Homo sapiens: one gene and its partners. The protein of the gene in region 4 purifies or fractionates together with the protein of the main gene of each other region. This does not show direct contact. Each region holds a gene or a part of one and is shown on either strand. Other genes may lie near its edges.

Region 1 (5,595 bases), on a different chromosome or scaffold from region 4:
GCAATTCTCCTGCCTCAGCCTCCTGAGTAGCTAGGATTACAGGCACATGCCACCATGTCCGGCTAATTTTTGTATTTTTAGTAGAGATGGGGTTTCACCATGTTGGCCAGGCTGGCCTCGAACTCCTGACCTCAGGTGATACACCCGCCTCGGCCTCCCAAAGTGCTAGGATTACAGGCATGAGCCACTGTGCCCGGCCTCTTAGTACTTTTATATGTATAAAAGACTTGAATCCTCCCAACAAGCCACGAAGAAGGCTCTATTATCACCCCTGTTTTACAGGTAAGAAGTCTGAGGCCCAAGATCCTACATCTGCAAGTGGCAATGTTGATATACAAACCCAGGCAGTCTGGCTCCAAAGCTAGCACTTTGGGCTGTACAGGAGAGACACAGTAGTGACCAAAGGTAGACAGTTTCCCCACATCAGATTCACAGTCCAGAAATTTGAGCGGTTTCAACGAGTAAAAAACCACATGAACAGTAATATTTAAAATTTAAACAAGGCTGGGTGTGGTGGCTCAGTCAAGAGTTTGAGACCATCCTGGCCAAGATGGCGAAACCCTGTCTCTACTAAAAATACAAAAAAATTAGTCAGGTGTGGTGGCCCATGCCTATAATCCCAGGCACTCAGGAGGCTGAGGCAGTAAAATCGCTTGAACCCAGGAGGCGGAGGTTGCAGTGAGCTGAGATGGCACCATTGCACTCCATCCTGGGCGACAGAGTGAGACTCTGTCTCAAAAAAAAAAAGGAACAAAACAGTTGAGGAAACAGAGGCCAAGAGGGGTTACCCATCCAGGAAGGGGTAGTGCCAGGATTCCAACACAAACAACCAAGCCATGGCACTCATGTTGTCTTATCTGTCGATCAGCATTACTGGGCCCTGGTATGAATGGTCACTTTTAGACTAGGTCTTTGCAAGACAGATCAACTCTGTGCTGCCAAACAAAAAAAATAAATAAATATTACCCCAAATACACAGTCATAATATCAGTATTAGCTAACATGAATAGAGTACTTGCCATATGCCAGTGTTGTTCTAAGTGCCTAGGATATGTAACCTCATTGAATCCTCACAAATACCCTATGAGAGATTTCTACATCATTATTCTCATTTTACAGATAAGAAAACTGAGGCACAGATAAGTTCATAACTTGGCGGGGCACAGTAGCTCACGCCTGTAATCCTAGCACTTTGGGAGGCCGAGGCAGGCAGATCGCTTGAGCTCAGTAATTCAAGACCAGCCTGGCCAACACGGCGAGACCCTGTCTCTACCAGAAAACACAAAAAAATTAGTCAGGTATGGTGGCATGCGCCTGCAGTCCCAGCTACTCAGGAGGCTTGAGGCAGGAAGATCACCTGAGCCCAGGGAGGCTGAGACTGCAGTGAGCCGAGATCAACCCAGTGCACTACAGCCTGGATGACAGAGTAAGACCCCATCTCAAAAAAAAAAAAAAAGAAAAGAAAAAGCGAAGTTCATAACCTGCCAGGAAGAACAGGACTAAAGTTTAAGCTCAGGCTGCCTGGGTCCAACCATACCATCAGCAGCAGTCTGTGCTCTTAGCCACTTTGCTATAACGCCTCTCTGAATTTGCTATTGTTATATGTAGTTTAATAGCTCAAAGGGCACTTTCAGGAACATATAAGATAAAGGCTATGAAGTATAGGGTGCTGGGTGACAGATGAAGGTGGCTGTTTGCTTTAGAATGGGGTTCGAGAAGGCCTTTCAAGATAGCGACATTCAGGCTGAGACTTGAAGGATGGGAAGGAGCCAGACAGGCAGATTGCAGCAAAAAGCCCAGGCTGAGGACTCACCAATCACAAAGGCCAGGAGGCAGAAAAGAATATGGAGCCTCAGGAAAACCAAAAGCAGGCCAGTGTGACTGAACCTTGGTGACAGAGAGCACATGGGAGGTACAGCCAGAGCCCTGTAGCCAGGAGTGGGCGGTATAATCACAGTGCAGGAGAAAGTCATGGGGCAGGAACAAGCTCCACCAGCAGCTACCAGGTATCCTCCCTTTATCTGGACTCCGTGCCAAGAAGATCACAATTAAAATTTCATTTCCCTCCAATGCAATAGTATAATTTATTTATTTATTTATTTTGAGACAGAGTCTCACTCTGTCGCCCAGGCTGGAGTGCAGTGGCATGACCTCAGCTCACTGCAACCTCCGCCTCCCAGGTTCAAGCGATTTCTCCCGCCTCAGCCTCCTGAGTAGCTGGGATTACAGGCGCGCGCTAGCATGCCGGGCTAATTTTTCTACTTTTTGTAGAGACGGGTTTCACCATGTTGGCCAGGCTGGTCTTGAACTGATCTCAGGTGAACAGCCCACCTTGGCCTCCCAAAGTGCTGGGATTACAGACGTGAGCTACCGCGCCCTACCAGTAGTATGGTTCTTATCATCTCCATTTTATAAAAACAGATTTTGTGCCTACACAGCTGGAAAACAATTTTTTTAATTGCCGCTGTGCTAATGGAATTCCTTCTACCTACTGTGAAATCATTTCTTTCCATTTTTCTGTCTCAGGATTTAGGGAACTGTTCTGTACGCCCTCCTCCCCAGGCAGCACTGCAGAGATTTTATAAATAACTTCTCACGTCTTTCTCATAGTTTTGAGTGACAATATGGATTAAGAATCCCACCTTGGTGAGGAAAAAGGATAGAGATCGCAGAAGGTGAGAGAAGGCGGGGTAGAAGCGAGGAAGAGTTGGGGCAGGTAACACTCTGGACCGAACCCTCGAAGGGACCTTAATGACTCAGCGGGGGCCAGGGCAGTGAGGCTGCAGTGAGCTATGATCGTGACGTCTAAAGGCGATAGAACGGGGGTTAAAATATAGCAGGACTAGGCTGTGATTTACAGAAGCAAAATGCATTTCCACGGGTGGGAACCAGCGAGGAACCCCCGAATTGCTCCAACGCTGAGGGTGGAGCCGGGAAAGCAGCGAGGAGAAAGTGGGAGGGGCCGTGGCTAAAGGGGCGGGGGTTAGGGGACGAGGCATGGCAGGGAACAACCTGAGGGGACTGGCCGGGGGCTGATGTCGGGGCCACAGTTCTCAGGACGGGACTAGGGGAAACCTAGGAAGCCTGGAACTGGGGTAGACATGGCGAGCAGCTTCTCACCCGGTTCTGCACCGTCTCCTCGGAGGCCGTCGAGAGTCGCGTCCGCCGCCGTAGGCAGATTGGTGGGGCGGGGGGCGGGGAGGACTGGCCCCTCCGCGCCGGAACTCCCGCCATGACAGAGGGCAGCTTCTCCCCTGCATCGTTCCGCGCATAGCCTCCGGACCCTACGGCCGCCATCGTCACGCCGGAGGCGGGCGACCGTTACATCCCCTAACCGCCGCTGCCGCCACCGCCACGACCCACTGGAACAGCGAACAGCCGCGGGAAAGCCGGCGCCACCGCCTATTGGACGCGACGGGCCCGGCCTAGCCAATCGCAGGGATGCCGGGCGGCGCTTAGAACCAATGGGGGCGAAGAGGCGGAGCGAGTGCCTGGCGGGGCGGGGCCACAGCCAGTGTACTGGATGCCTGATTAAGCGTCATGGGGTCTTTCATCCAGACTGCGTTTTCATTATTCGCTGAAACATACAGGTTTTAATTTTTACGAGGCTAAGGCCACGGCCGCCTCACCTCGGTTTTTGCCGCCACCTAGAGGAACTATGTGCGCCCCAACGGTTGCCCGGATGTAGGCGTAGGGTGGAGCCGTAAGAGATTGACTAGCCAGTTGATTTGGTTGGCGCAGGCTCAGAAACGCCGTGACGCCGCCCTTCCCCCCAACACGTGATGAAAGTCGGGGTGACGAAGGGCCGGCTTTGCGCAGGTGCACAGTACTCGCTATGGCCCATTCGTCACGTGACGAGGGCGGGACTGTGGCACTGTGGAGGGGCGCCTAGTAGGCAGGCGCTCTCAGCTCTCTCCCCGGTACGTGACGAGACTCCACGGACGTCACGTGAGGCAGGCGGCGAGCGCGGGTGGGGCGGGGTTAGGCGGCGCTCCGCGAGAACCAAAGTGCAGCCGCTGACCCGGCAAAACTCAGCGGGGGCTGGATAGCCATGCCCAAGTACTGCAGGGCGCCGAACTGCTCCAACACTGCGGGCCGCCTGGGTGCAGACAACCGCCCTGTGAGCTTCTACAAGTGAGCGCAGCGCGGGGCGGGGCTTGAGGGAGGCGGGACCCTGAGAGGGGTGGGGCCCGAGCATTAGTGCTGCTGTGCGGGGCTTCTGGTCTTGCTTGAGGGTGTTAGGAAGTGGGGTTAAACCATGAGGAGATGGCCTTCCTGGCAGTGTCCATTGCACATACAAAGGTGCAGGCGTGGGAAACAGGAGTAGACGATTGACTACAGATAGCGAGCGAAGCGAGCCGAAGAGTGAAAGGGATGTAAGAAGTGAAGTCGGTGCAGGCTGTTAGAGAGCCTGCAGATGCCCACTTGCCCTCCCCACGCATTTGAGCCATCTGAAACTCAGAGCATCCGAAACTGAGCTTGCGATCGTGTCTCCCCAAAACCTTCCAGTCTGTCTTATCTTAGTAGCGTGCTTCATTCTTCTTGTTGCTTAGGTTTAAAAAATGTCATCCTTACCTCTTTCGTCATACTTGGGAAAGTCAGAATTAGCTTCGACTGTAAAAGATCTGTCTCCTTATTTATCTGGCTGACATAAGCCAGTTGGTGGAAGAATTACTAGGAAAAAACATTTCTTTGCTTTTTTTTTTTTTTTTTTTTGAGACAAGATCGCTTTGTCGCCCAGGCTGGAATGCAGTGGAACGATCACAGCTCACTGCAACCTCGACCTCCCGGGCTCAAGTGATCCTCCCACCTCACCCTACCAAGTAGCTGGGACCAGAGGCACGCGCCACCATGCCTGGATAATTTAAATTTTTTTTTTTTTTTTTTTTTTTTTTTTTTTTTGCCAGGCTTGGTGGCTCACGCCTGTAATCCCAGCACTTTGGGAGGCCGAGGCGGGCAGATCACCTGAGGTCAGGAGTTCGAGACCAGCCTGGCCAACATGGTGAAACCCCGTGTCTACTAAAAATACAAAAATTAGATGGGCGTGGTGGCTCATGCGTGTAATTCCAGCTACTCCGTGGGCTGAGGCAGGAGAATCGCATGAATCCAGAAGGCAGAGGTTGCAGTGAGCCAAGATGAGGCCACTGCAATCCAGCGTGGGCAACAAGAGTGAGACTCCGTCTCAAAAAAAAAAATTTTGTTTTTAAAGAGAGAGATGGGATCACCCTATGTTGTCCAGTCTAGTCTCAAACTCCTGGGCACAAGCAGTCCTCCTGCCTCGGCCTCCCAAAGTGCTTGGATTACAGGCGTGAGCCACTGCACCCAGCCAGGAAAAAATATTTCTCTTGGACATACTGCAGATGTAAAGTGGCAGAATTCCCATCCTTTGAGTGTCTACTGCTTTCTTAGTAGGAAACTTTGGTTGTCTAAAGTCAGAGATGATCACAAACTTTGCTGTTTGAAATCACATCAAGTAAGAATGAAACATCTCACTTTTGCTTGGAGGAGCTAAGTCACTTTGACACAGAAAAGCAGTCCCTATTTACAATCCAGGTTTGGAGCTTCAGATAAGGACACAATATTCTACATCTATGT
Region 2 (4,936 bases), on a different chromosome or scaffold from region 4:
GTGTTTCTAGTACTTCCCTTTAGATGATTTAGAAATGGAATTTGGAGTAGAATTAATATTTGTGAATCACCTATTGCGTATGATGCATTGTGCTAGCTACTTCATAAATCTCTTATTTAATCCTAACAGCCCTTCAAGGTGTATCATTATACTGCCTTTTCACAAATGAAGAAAACAAAGATCAGGAGTGTTAAGTAACCTGTCCAAAGTCTTAAACCTACTACATGGCAGAGCCAAAAGTTGAACCCAAGTCAGGACAAACATCTTTATGACCTGCTTCTTATTAACCTATTTGCTTCCCAAAGGAGTTATGATTTAAAATGATACCAGAAATAAAAATGTTTCTAGTTCAATTTTCTGTGAGAAATTGATAGCTTTAATACATAGCAAAGACTACCATGCCTGGAACCAACTTACTGTATTAAACCAATACCCATTTTTATATATCCTAATCTGATAGCCTATACCAATTCTCTCTCTTCAACCACTTAGACCTCGTGTACTCAGAGGAAAAGCAAAAAATGTTTTGTTCAACCTCTACAGCATTTTCAAATATTTGGAATATATAAGATGCCCTCCTTATTTCAAAATCTATGAATAATAATCTTACAAATTTTCTTAGACTTAGGTTAGTCTCCCTTAAAATGATGAACTTTTCGGTTTTATTATAAAATGAAGAATTCCAAAACATGTAGGCTTCCATTTGCTGAAAGCGCTATGGAAATAGGCTGAAGAGTAATGTATCAAACATTCCCTCTAAATTATGTTATGTAACCACGTTAATATGAGAATATGAATTAACGGTAAAAGCTATCACTTATAGAGTACTTACTATGCGCCAAGTACTATACATGGATTTTCACTTTGTACCTTACTGAAGTCTCTAAGTTACAAGCAAAGAAACTATGGTGAGAAAGTTCATATAACGTGGCCAAAGTATACAGCTAGAAAGTGGTAGAGGTAGAATTCAAACCCAGGTTTGTCTACCTCAAAGCCTATGGTCATTACCACCACTGCTTACTGCCTGCTAGTTCTTATCTGGTATATATATCCCTGTCCTCAATTCTAAAACCATTATAGACAGATATACCCTTATTTAAACCTATTATTAACTATATCAATTAATGTGTCCATAGTTTCTAAATTTGAAATAGTTTCTAAACTAAAATAATTAAGAAATGTCTGAAGAATTACCACTGAAAAATTCAAATAAGGCAGCAAACTTTCATAAAATTCTGAGAGATCAAGAACAGATAATTCGCATTGACAAAAACTTTTTCACTGCTTGGGAGTTATTCTTAAATTTTAAACTTCTGAATGGCTGCTATCTCCCATGTTCTGATGTTTCAAATTTCTTTATAAAAGTATAATGTCTAAAATATAAGAGTAACATTCACCAAATGTGAATTCTTCAATCTATTAGAGTCTGAAGCAAAACATATACATTTTTAAATTTATAAGATATAATTTAAAATAGCATATTATTTTCCTGTTGTTTATCAAACACATTCATTAGATTGGCTGATGGGACAACACAAGAGTCATTTACTAAGATACGTCAAAGAATAGATCAAGTCTTACCTCCATTGCCAAAGCTGCTGTCTGTTGGTCATAATGATTCAGAAGATTAGGCATGAAGGTAGTATTATAAGGCAAATCTTGGCACATCCTCAAGGTAATAGGTTCACAAGAAAACAAACTGTGCCCACCTATATGCCCCATGAACACAGTCAAGGGCCAAAGAGAGAAGACAATCCAAGTCATAGCCATCCTTCCTGGGTCTGAAGGAGATTCAGATGATCAGGCCTATTCAATATGTATTTTAGATATTTATACACCTGCAGGTCTCAGCTCGAAGGTACTTCTTCTGTATCTTACTGTTAAATTCTTCAAACAGTTAAATACTCTTCGCACCGTCAGAGGTTTGTTAGCTTGGTCTCACAAAAGGCGTTTGTTTTTGGTTTCACAATATGGGAAAATGACATCATCTTGTCTCTTCTTTTCATTTTATTACATGGGGCACATTTGGCCAACATATCAAGTTGATCAACCACATTCCCAAACCACAGATTCCATCTTAGGAGAAGAGCTATTTCTTCCTTCAACTGAAATATCTGAAAAGTATTATTTTAAAAAATGGGAGAAATTAGTCATTTCCTCTCAAAGTATTATGGACTTGACATTAAAAATCTTTGATGAGAGATATTATACTGACCTAATAGTTAACAATATGTGGGTACTTTATAAAGATATCATTTTTCTACTTTATCATTTATGCTATAGCTACACTAAAATGATCCTTAAACAGCATTTAAATGCAAATTTAATTTCATCCCTCAGTTGCTTATATAACACATGGTTCAACTTCTCATGTATAATGGCAGTTTTTCATCCGTCACAATATATAATTGATTCATTTTGAAAAATTATTATGCTATTGTCCTAAATTTTATTTAAATAATAAATATTACGCTTATAACCTAAATTATTGAACTAAAATTGCATGTGTTTTAATCTTTAATAGTATATTTTTGTATTAACTGATGTAGCAGAAGGCATCTGTGAAAGTGGTCTGAAAAGTAAGTCAAAAGATACAGATTCAAGCCTCTTGCTAGCTGTGTGAATATAAACATACCACTTAACTTCTATGTACCTAGAATTTTTCTTCTTGAAAATGATTCCAATACCACCTAGCTCACAGGGATGATATGAGTGAATCATAAGATAATGTATGCAAAAGTACTTTATAAATGGTAAAGCAGTATGAAGCGTTAGACATTTTAATCATTGAATTAGTTTATACAAATGCTACCTCTATCAACCAATACTGAACTGACATATAGAAGGTTCTAAAATATTAGGAAATCTTCACAATATTATATTATTTTTTAGACAGTACAAAAATTTAATAACACAGATGTAGCACTAAGAAATATTTCATCAACGAACGGTCATTACACACAGCCATGCTGCACAGAGAATAGAAATCATCCCTAAAAAGTCACAGGAAAAATAAGAATAATTCCCAGTTATTGTTTCCACAGAGCTTTAGAATTTCTGACTTGTATGTACTTTTCCAGGGGCAAAAATATGTGTGATTCTCAATTTCAGCTGAGAGGGTGTGGGTGGAGTGGAAGGCAGGTCTGGTATGAAAAAAGTATATTCTAAGCTATCACATTTTGATTTGGTTTAGTAACGATGTTAACTTTGCTTTTATTTCAATTTGTTTCATATGCATTGGATAGTCTTATGTTTGTTGTGGAGAGCCTAGGTTAGGAAAAGAGAAATTCAGGTTCAGAAATTCTCAAAGACCCAGACTAATAGGACAACTTAAATACTAGCACCTATGATAACTTAGATTGTGGGACCTGGAACTGCTTTGGCTTAAGTGGGGAAAGAAACTGTCCTCTGTGCATTAACTATCAATGACTGGGAACTCCATGTCCCAAGCTTCAGTTACTAGGCAGATAACTATTTGGAGAAAGTAAAACAGTGACTGAATCTTCCCAATTTCTCCCTCTAGTAGATGGTCTTGACTAACAGAAGGGAAAAGAAAAGTCTATGGTCCCTAGAATTAGGAAACTAAGGTAAAAGCAAACCCTGCTCAAAAAGCCCTAAAGCGCCTCATGTTCTACATCAGAAATTTCTGAAACAGATTCTTGGCCTGCCATATTTCTTTTTCTCCCCACAAATGTTGAGATCTGCCTATAGAAAACAGATACTGGGCAGGGCGCAGTGGCTCACGCTTGTAATCCCAGCACTTTGGGAGGCCGAGGCAGGCGGATCACGAGGTCAGGAGTTCAAGACCAGCCTGGCCAACATAGTGAAACCCTGTCTCTACTAAAAATACAAAAAATTAGCCAGGCGTGGTGGCAGGCGCCTGTAGTCCCAGCTACTTGGGAGGCTGAGGCAGAAGAATCGCTTGAACCTGGGAGGCAGAGGTTGCAGTCAGCTGAGATCATGCCATTGCACTCCAGGCCTGGGCAACAAGAGCGAAACTCCATCAGAAAAAAAAAAGAAAACTGGTATTAACCACAGTTAAAAACATATTTATCTTAATTACCATGCAGCGCAGTAACAATTATGCATATCACTAAATATGTCAAGTAACTGTTGAAAGTTTTATTTGATTGTAGTATTAAAACATCCATGTAAGTTCAGTCTTTGTAGTTTATTACTTATGCAGCATATTCATCTGCTTGCAACTAAATAAAATTAAAGGGAACATTACTCCCTGTTGAATACGCATATAGTAACAACAAGAATTTCAAAAATTTCATTTAAACTAATCTATTTTTCAAGCAGGTATGGGTTTCAAATCAATGGTTCAAAGAAGACTACCACATAAAACCTGAAGAAGAAACTGAGCAATATCTCACTGAGCCTTTAAAACTAGCTGAAATGTCCCCCTATACTTCTGCCTACTCCATCTATTTTACCTGGTTTCCTTTTGATTATTCCTTTTGCCTTACTTGCAAGTAAAGCATCCTACCTTCTTATAAAAGTGCTTCCTTATGTACTATGACATTCAAATTACCATGTACCAAGATGCTTTTGTAAAATCTACTGTTAAGCTGTGAAAGGACAAGAATCTTGATACAGCAAGACTGCAGTTTATGATTATTAAAAGAAGGGAAAAAACAGCAGTGGAATTCAGTGAGACATGAAGAAAACAGGTAAAGTATAGGTGTTAAAGAATTTTCATTTCCCCCAAAACAGCAGTTCTCTAATCGTAAAGTGTAGCAGATTCATGGATTCCCCTGGAAATCTGAATCCTGGAGAATGATATGCATTCTAATGATTACCTCAGGTTACAAGTGCTCCATAAGTCAGGTCTTGAGAAATGCTATCCTAGAACAGAATAATTAAAAAGAATAAAGGTATTGTTTATGTAATTATATACAGTAAATGAATTTTAAAAATAAAAGCAGATAGG
Region 3 (4,936 bases), on a different chromosome or scaffold from region 4:
AACAAGAAAACAGTCTCGCAAACTCTTAAAACAACAACAACAAAAACCAAGTTGTTTCCAAAAGAAACCAACCAATGCTCCCACTATCTAAATTAGTTTAGGATAGATCCATTTTCTTATTTGAGTACCATTTTGATTTTTCTCACTTTGAAGATACATGTCGTCCCAATTAACAGAAAATAAGCCTAATTCATTGAAATAATTGAGAAATTAAAAATGACAAGAGAAACCATTGCTAGGTATTAATATAACATATAACATATAACAATTCTTGCTCTTGAAGATGATAAATTCTAAAACTCAAGAAGTAGATTAAAAAAATTTTTTAAACTGCAGTGTGGATTAGCAATTCTGAAACTACAATATGAATTGTTCTTTTGAGTATCTTTACTTGTTCAATCTGAGAACAGGTAAAGATAGTGTGAATAACACGAAGCCCTGTTTCTCATAGAGAAGTTATGGATATGAAAACTGGGAAGGCTAGAATAAACCCTGTAGTGCTAAACTGGAATCAGAGGCATCAGTACAAACTCATGGTTTTTAAGATATAGAAAGAGAGATAAAAAATATGAGAGGTAAGAAAATAGAAATACATAAAAATAGAGAAAGACAGAGAGAAACAGAGCCACAAATAGATGGATAGAATGAGACGTGTGTATATTGCACTCACATACATTTATTTCCTTGTTGTGTCCACTGAGATGGCCTAAAAGCAATGATAGGCCGGGTGAAGTGGGCCTATAATCCCAGCACTTTGGGAGGCCAAGGCAGGTAGGTTGCTTGAGCCCAGGAGTCCGAGACCAACCTGGGCAACATGACAAAACCCCGTCTCTATAAAAAATACAAAAATTAGTTGAGTGTAGTGGCACACACTTGTAGTCCCAGCTACTCTAAAGGCTGAGGTGGGAGGATCACTTGAGCCCAGGATGTTGAGGTTGCAGTGAGCCGTGATCATGCCACTGCACTCCAGCCTGGGTGACAGAATGAAACACTGTCTCAAAAAAAAAATTGCAATGATAAACCAATGGTAATAGGTACTTAGTGTCCAGATCTTGGTTTCAAAACACAGTTCACCACTAAACGGAACAAGGACTCCTGGAGAAAAAAAAAATGGTTTCTACACCGGCATGCGGAATGTACTAGATGAACCTGGAACATCTTACTGAGCCAGAAAGCAAAGAAGTGCTCAATAATGGGGAAATGTCAAAAGGACAGAGAAGCCACATTGGGGGCAATTTGAACAACAAAGTAAGTAGGCTTAGTAATACATTATAACCCATAGAATAAAATAAGAATTTATGAGTCCACATTGACATAAATAAATGATGAAGGAGAGAAAGCTCAGACTTACAGAAAGATTCTAAATAATGTGTAGAAGGCATGTCAGAATTAGAATAATCATCTTTGGTTACTACTAATGTAATAATTCAAAGGTAAGAATCACCAAAAATGCTAACACTAGTGGATGAATGTGAAACTGCCTTTGCAGAAATTGTAACAGTGAGAAAATTATGATGGTGAAGGAGATCTGACCTGACAACTCCATCTTGCCTTTCACCCCCAAACTCCCTTAGCCATTCCTGCAGTGGGCCAAGCTAACTTTTGTAGATAGTTTATAGTTTAAATGATGACAGCAAAATGAAACTGCCTTTGTAAAACTAATGAAAGGACACCAGGTTAGGAGGATGAGAGGGGCCTGAATTCTGCCAAGATGTAGGTGTAGTTAAATGATTACCAGTCATTATTCCAGAGGTCACAAGATTTGTAACCTCCCTGTAAATAACATCACTATTATAGAACCTAAGATTGGCCTTCTGAGATGTCTTTTCAGGTTTTTGTATTTCTGACAACTGGAGGCCCTATAACTGGATAGACCAGTAACTCCTCTGTTGTCCCTACCCAGAAGTGGACTCAGCACATGAGGACTGTTTTCCACACCTCTGTGATTGCATCCTCAGCCAATCAGCAGTACCCATTCCTTAGCCCCCTGCCCACCAAACTATCCTTGAAAAACTCTAGCCTCCAAATTGACAAAGAGGCTGATTGGAGTAATAGTACAACTCCTGTCTGCTGTTTAGCCAGCTTTATGTGTATTAAATTCATTCTCTATTTCAATTCCCTTGTCTTGATAAATTGGCTCTATCTTGACAACAAACAAGATGAACCCATTGGGTGGTTACAAATGTATAATGAGAAACATTTACATACTTTCAAAATATGTATCTATTAAATGATTGGAGGGAAATTGTTAACTTTTCAATAAAGAACCAGGCAGATACCACCTTACCAAGGGATCAGAATTAACATCACCAGCATGGGCAAAACTGACATCTTGTGCCTCCTGATATGAGGCACTGAGAAGGATACACAGCACTTGTGTGATCTTCTTGCCACAAATGCAGAGCCGGAACCTAACCCTAAGGAAACATCAGACATGTTCAAACTGAGGGAGGTTCTGCAGAATATATAACCTGTGCTCTTCAAAAATGTCAAAGTCATAAAGGACAGGGAGAGACTGGGGAGTTGTGTCAGATTAAAAAACGACAATAAAATACAATGCAATTTTAGATTGGATTTTGGACCAGAAAAACAATTTTTTTCAGTGATTATAAAGGCTATCAATGGGAAACTGATTAAATGTGAATGTCTAGAAATCAGATAATAATTAGATATCAACATTACATTCCAGATTTTGATAATTATGTTACGGCTACACACTGTTTTTCAGTAAATAAATACTCTGTTAAGTATTTGGAGGCAAAGGGCATCATGTCCTCAACCTACCCCTAAATGGTTCAGAATAAAAATGTGTATGAATGTATGGAGGGGGCAGGGAGGGAAAGATAAAGTTTATATGGTAAAATCTTACATTTGGGGAATCTGGGTGAACAACATATGGAAAATCTTTGTACTATTTTTGCAACTTTTTGTAAGTTTGAAATTATTGTAAAATAAAAACACATTTTTTCAATGTTATTTGTCCACAGAAACTAGGAAAATTATACTCAGTCAGTTCTCATCGTTAGCTTCTCGTAATGAACTGAAATCGTTTGTTATAACAATAACAGCGTAACAAAGAACAAATCATAATAAACCTTTGATACTGGCAGCTGTAAATCAGATAAAAAACATCTGTTGTCCAGCCCTCCTCTTTTCAAATTACCTTTAAAGTAAGTTAACTTTAGGGCAGGTACAGTGGCTCATGTTTGTAATCCCAGCACTTTGGGAGGTGAAGGTGGGAGGATCGCTTGAGCCCAGGAGTTCGAGACCAGCCTGGCCAAAATTGTGAAACCCTGACTCTACTAAAAATACAAAAATAAGCCAAGCATGATGGTGCATGCCTGTAATCCCAGCTACTCAAGAGGCTGAGGCACAAGAATTGCTTGAACCGGGAGACGGAGGTCATAGTAAGCCAAGACTGCCCCACTGCATTCCAGCCTGGGTGACAGAACGAGCCTCTCTGTCTCAAAAAATAATAGTGATAATAAAATAGGTAAACTCTAGAGATAATAAACAACTTGAAAGCAACAATTTATAGTAGAAAATATTCTTTTAACTCCAATTCAGAAAGCTACTGACATTAGATAGACAAATTATCAAATCCTTCTGGGCCACAGTTTATTCATCTGAAAAATGAAGGGGTTCCATCAGTTTCTAATTCTATTCTATTAGAGCATAGTCTATTCTACTAGATCTATTCGTAACTTCTCTATGAGAAATGGGACTTCTTATTATTCACACTATATGGTCTATTCTAATTCTTACATCGCGAGAATCTAGAAATGAATTTCATGATAAAAATACTGGTTGCTTGCTTTAAAACTTAAGAGTAAAATATGGATCTCACTTGAACAAAAACTTGAAGTCCAAATACAACAACAAACTGAATAATAAGTATTTATTAACTATCTAATGTTGGGGCTCAGGACATACCTCCCCAGAATATGACTGAAGGAGACCAGAATATGTGACCCCAAAATATGCCTCCTTTGCACATTTTGAGAAAGTGTAGACATAGGAGTAGCTCTGAAAAGTTACCTTTTTAAAGATAAATTTGTGCCTATACAAGAAATCTCTGCTTATAAGGGCATCTCCCTCTCTGCAACAGGAGGAGATGACTAAGTAAAGAAGACATCGACTTACATCTTCATAACAAACTTCACCTTCATTTAAGGTGCTTTTCCTGGCCATCTCATCTTAACAGGGTTGTTCCCCACAACCTTTTTTACTTTGTTTCAGAGAATGATGGTATTTAAGCCCAAAATTTAAATGCTTTCTTTGAGATCTACTCTAGAGACTTGCTCATTTCTCTGGGGTTTTCCCGTGTATACATGAGGCATACATATTAATACACTTCTGTTTTTCTTCTGTTAATTTGTCTTTTGTTACAGGGAGCCTCAGATAAGAGTTATGAAGGACAGAGAAAATTATTACTTTTTCCTTCTCTACACTACCTTGTTTTTCTTGGTGTTTTTTTTTGTTTTGTTTTGTTTTCTTTTTTTTTTTGAGATGGAGTCTTACTCTGTCACCCAGGCTGGAGTGCAGTGACACAATCTCAGCTCACTGCAACCTCCACCTCCTGGGTTCAAGTGATTCTCCTGCCTCAGCCTCCCAAGGAGCTGGGACTACAGGTGTGCATCACCATGCCCAGCTAATTTTTGTATTTTTTAGTAGAGTCAGGGTTTCACCATATTGGACAGGCTGGTCTCGAACTCCTGACTTCATGATCTGCCCGTCTCGGCCTCCCAAAGTGCTGAGATTACAGGCATGAGCCACAGCGCCCAGCCTTTTCTTGTTTTTTTTTTTTTTTTTTTTTTTTTTGAGACGGGGTCTTGCTCTGTTGCCCAGGCTGAAGTACAGTGGCATGAACATGGCTCACTGCAGCCTTGACCTCATGGGCTCAAGTGATCCTTCTGCCTCAGCCTCTTGGGTAGCT
Region 4 (3,913 bases):
TAGCCTCTCTGATTGGTTCTCATTCTTTGAAGTTTTTATATTTCTTTCTTTAGTGTTTTATTTCATGTAAGTGCTTATTTATCTATGGAATATAGTTTTATGTATGTGTTTTAAATGACTTCAGTTTTAGAAATGCACCTTAGAACTCTATATTTTATCTATTTTTTTTCTCCTTAGTCTAATTGCTATTATTTTTAAAGAGATTCCTCAATGATCAGAGAAGGTACTCTTACTCCAGGGATAGAAAAGGTTTAACTATAATTTATTTCTCAACAATCAACTGACTTGCCAGTTGTAACTTTTCTAATATAAATGTTAATCCTGTCTTACCTGGTGCTGAATTAGAAAAATCAGCAGACAGATTTGTGTACAATTGACCTTTTGAGTTTAACACTAACCTACAATAGGGTTGTTATGAGCAGTTTTATTTTTCTCTGCCTTGATTTTTCTGTTACCTAAAATCAAGTGGTATCACCTTTGTTCCTGTTAACTTTACAGGTATTCTGAAATATAATTTTGAGAATAAATAGTTCTAGAAAAATAGACTCATTCTATTTGCACAACTCGGAACAGCTTTATGCTCATTCAATTAGCTCAAATGCATAATAGAGTTTGGATATCTCACCTGCTGGTATTCTTTAGATCAAAGCATTGCTGTTGGGTTTCAGTACTGTAATTCTACCAGTTCCAAATCCTGAATTTACTGCTTTCTTGTGGGAGCATTCCCTTTCATTAGGACATGTAAAGGTGCCTTGGGTCTTCTTTTACCATACGGAAAAATAGGAGAGAAGATAATAGCTTAAAGCTAAAGAATTAGATTCTGGAACAGAGTGATTTACAATATTGGTGAGCTACCAGAGATTAGTTCTAGTTTCAGCTCTTCCACTATATGGCCGTGTGACTTTCAGCAAGTTATTAGTTCTTCATGGGCCCATAATTCCCTGATCTCTAAGTGAAGATGGAAGTAATTAGGAGGTTTAAAAAATTTTAACTAAAAAATCTTTTGTCTTTTTCAAAATTAATCTTATATAGAGCCCCTAAATTTAGATCAGGTAAAGTCCTGATTGCTGAGGATATGGTGGGAGCAGGAACCAAATCCTAAGCTTATTGAACGTACCCATGCATCATGATTTCAAAGTCAAGGGGCTAAACAAATTTAGGGACACTTCCATGTGTAAATTTATTGAGGTCTATTTTTCAGTGGGAATAATCTGATTTACTTTCAGTAGGGAAATCTCTATTTGCTCAAAAATGTCAAGTTGATACTAACCACCAAAAAAAAAAAAAAAAAAAAAAAAGTCAAGTCCACTGTAGAACACATGTATGTTGATGTTTGGTTCCTGTGACCAGGAGGAGGTTTATTTGGTCCTCTCATAAAAGTAAAGGGCTTTGGAAGGCCGAGGTGGGCAGATCACGAGGTCAGGAGTTCAAGAGCAGCCTGACCAACATGGAGAAACCCCGTCTCTACTAAAAATACAAAATTAGCCGGGTGTGGTGGCACATGCCTATAATCCCAGCTAGTTGGGAGGCTGAGGCAAGAGAATCATTTGAACCCAGGAGGCGGAGGTTGCGGTGAGCCAAGATCACACCATTGCACTCCAGCCCAGGCAACAAGACCGAAATTCTGTCTAAAAAAAAAAAAGGGAAGAATAGCAACCAGTAATTTTGACAGTTTTAACAGTCATCATAGTATAACTTTATGTATAAGTTAGGTGGCTCATTATAATTTCAGCAGTGAAAAAAGAAGGCATTGTAGCCTTTCTAATATACAATGATATTTAGTTACATACTTGAATTTTTGGTAGTTTATATGAAGATACATTTGCCTAAAGACTTTGTTTGTTTAACTTGCAGTATTTGTCCTTAGCTAGGCTAAATCATAAGCCAGCTTCATGAAAAGAAAAATTTAAGGCTTCTCTGCTTTCAAATATGAACAGTTATTATCTACTCAAACAAAGCAAGGAAGTCAAAAAAGAAAGAGCAACTTTGCCAAGGCTAATCTTTCCCTTAGACTGTGTGGGAGTAAAGCTTTTATTTCTTATAAGAAAAAAGATAACAAAATGTCCAACAGGTTGAGTGGCTGCAAAATATTGTAGCTTTAAAGGGGGTCATTTGATTTTTTTTTTGAAATTTTATGAGGTCTCAGGACATTTGACACATGTTATAAATGTAATGTATATTTACAAATCAATATGATAAAAATGACTTGCTACCCATGCCCCAATTTGGAATCTCAAATCAAACTTACCTCACAAACATTAGAAAATTGAGGAATAATTAAAAATCTATGCTGACCTTCTTTGTATTGCCTGTAATTTACTCTGGGTAAACATTCAGCACCATATGCTGTATATTTGTTTCTTGAATTTATGTTTTGACAATGCATGAAATAAAATATTTCAGATACTTCAGAAAAGCTTTACAGCTTAACCTCAGAAGAGTTCCCAGATTTCAGCAGCCAATCACTGAATATAAGTCAGATTTCCACAGATTTCCTTAAGACCTCACATGTGAGGGGTCCCTGTGGAGTTGAGGAATTGAGGTAAGTTAAGCCTGCAGTTTATTTATTAATATAGTATGTAGTAAAATTTTGACAAGCTCCAACTAGTTATCTTTATTATATATAGAAAGATTGTCCTCATGTGTATACTTTATATGATCATTCTTTATAGAATGTTTGGGTCCTTTGCTGATCTATTATCGAGATTTAGTAAAAGGCTTATAAAGTTGTTACTTTAATGTGAAGAGATCATTCTCTACTGTACAATATGTATCATAAAAATGAAAAGATATTTGGAATATAATAATCCTTCAGCATTTCTTATTATATTGAAAATCAATGGCCTTATTTGAATTAATTAACCTAATAAATGTCAATACTTTGTATTAATAGAATCCTACCCAATGTGAATAAGGTTTTTAGAATCAAATAGTAAGTTTCTTTCTTGAAATCAAGCCTAGAAAATTAACAATAACATATTTTAATTTGTATGATATCATTCTTTCCTCACATAAAATACATTTAGGGATGGTCAGATCAGCTTACAAGGAATGTAGGTTATACTAGTAAATGTTTCAGAAAAGTAGTCTATTGTTTCAGTCTATTATTGACACACTGCAATTCCTTGAAGAAGGAGCAGGATTTCTTCTAGAAAGACTAAAATAAGTATAAAATAAGTTATTTGTATTGTAAATTTCTTTGATTGAAATTTAATTGAAATCTGATACTGCAGTAAAAAGGGAATCAGGAGTTTCTTATTCTTTCTGGAAGAGGAAATCATTGAGTTGTTGTTCTTGGTTTTTACATTTCTTTCTCTTGTAAAAAAATTTTTTAAGACAGGGTATCAACATGTTGCCTAGGTAGGTCTGAAACTCCTGGGCTCAGGCTATCCTGCTTCAGCCACTTAAACAGCTGGGACTACTCAGGCCACTGCACTCAGCCTGGATTTTTGCATTTCTATTATCATTTATATTTGTTTAAAGGATCAATGTAAGATTGATATTTTCTTCCCTTAGATAAATCATTAAAAACAAACTACACCTACAAGTATTCTCATCATTCATAAAACAAATGACATTCAATACTAAAAATATAAGGGGACCTTACTAACAGAATAAGGTGCCCCCTGCTGCCACCAATAAAATGCAACAAAATAAAATAACAAACAAATGCCGTCATTAATTTTTGCTTCAGCATATCTTGACTGGCTATCTACATAGTCCTAATTTACAGTATACAAAAGAGATGATTTATCTGGCAGTCTATTCACTGGGATTCTATTAAACAGCCAATGTGATGATGAATGTTCTTAATGATGACCCTGAGGCTCTGCAGGTTTCTAAAGTGCCTCTGAATCATCAACAAAAGACACAATCAGAGACCATAAAGTCTCTCCTTGATTCTACTGTGGCT

The links. Proteins that work in one complex are often made in the same cells at the same time.
Region 1: the proteins of ZBBX (region 4) and WDR62 purify together in Homo sapiens (affinity purification with mass spectrometry; 2 studies listed by BioGRID and IntAct, with this or other methods). This does not show direct contact.
Region 2: the proteins of ZBBX (region 4) and FZD3 purify together in Homo sapiens (affinity purification with mass spectrometry; 2 studies listed by BioGRID and IntAct, with this or other methods). This does not show direct contact.
Region 3: the proteins of ZBBX (region 4) and DHX32 purify together in Homo sapiens (affinity purification with mass spectrometry; 2 studies listed by BioGRID and IntAct, with this or other methods). This does not show direct contact.

The regions. Positions count from the first base shown.
Region 1 is NC_000019.10:36,052,674-36,058,268, reverse strand, and holds the start of WDR62 (WD repeat-containing protein 62), read right to left. Parts: upstream 3,373-5,595; 5' UTR 3,298-3,372; coding exon 3,121-3,297; intron 1-3,120. Other genes in the region: THAP8 (THAP domain-containing protein 8), read left to right, coding at 4,052-4,134. UniProt on the Homo sapiens protein: Required for cerebral cortical development. Plays a role in neuronal proliferation and migration.
Region 2 is NC_000008.11:28,499,848-28,504,783, reverse strand, and holds part of FZD3 (frizzled-3 isoform 1 precursor), read right to left. Parts: intron 4,852-4,936; 5' UTR 4,806-4,851; intron 2,115-4,805; 5' UTR 1,771-2,114; coding exon 1,582-1,770; intron 1-1,581. UniProt on the Homo sapiens protein: Receptor for Wnt proteins.
Region 3 is NC_000010.11:125,874,221-125,879,156, forward strand, and holds part of DHX32 (putative pre-mRNA-splicing factor ATP-dependent RNA helicase DHX32), read right to left. Parts: intron 1-4,936.
Region 4 is NC_000003.12:167,241,134-167,245,046, reverse strand, and holds part of ZBBX (zinc finger B-box domain-containing protein 1), read left to right. Parts: intron 1-2,403; coding exon 2,404-2,542; intron 2,543-3,913.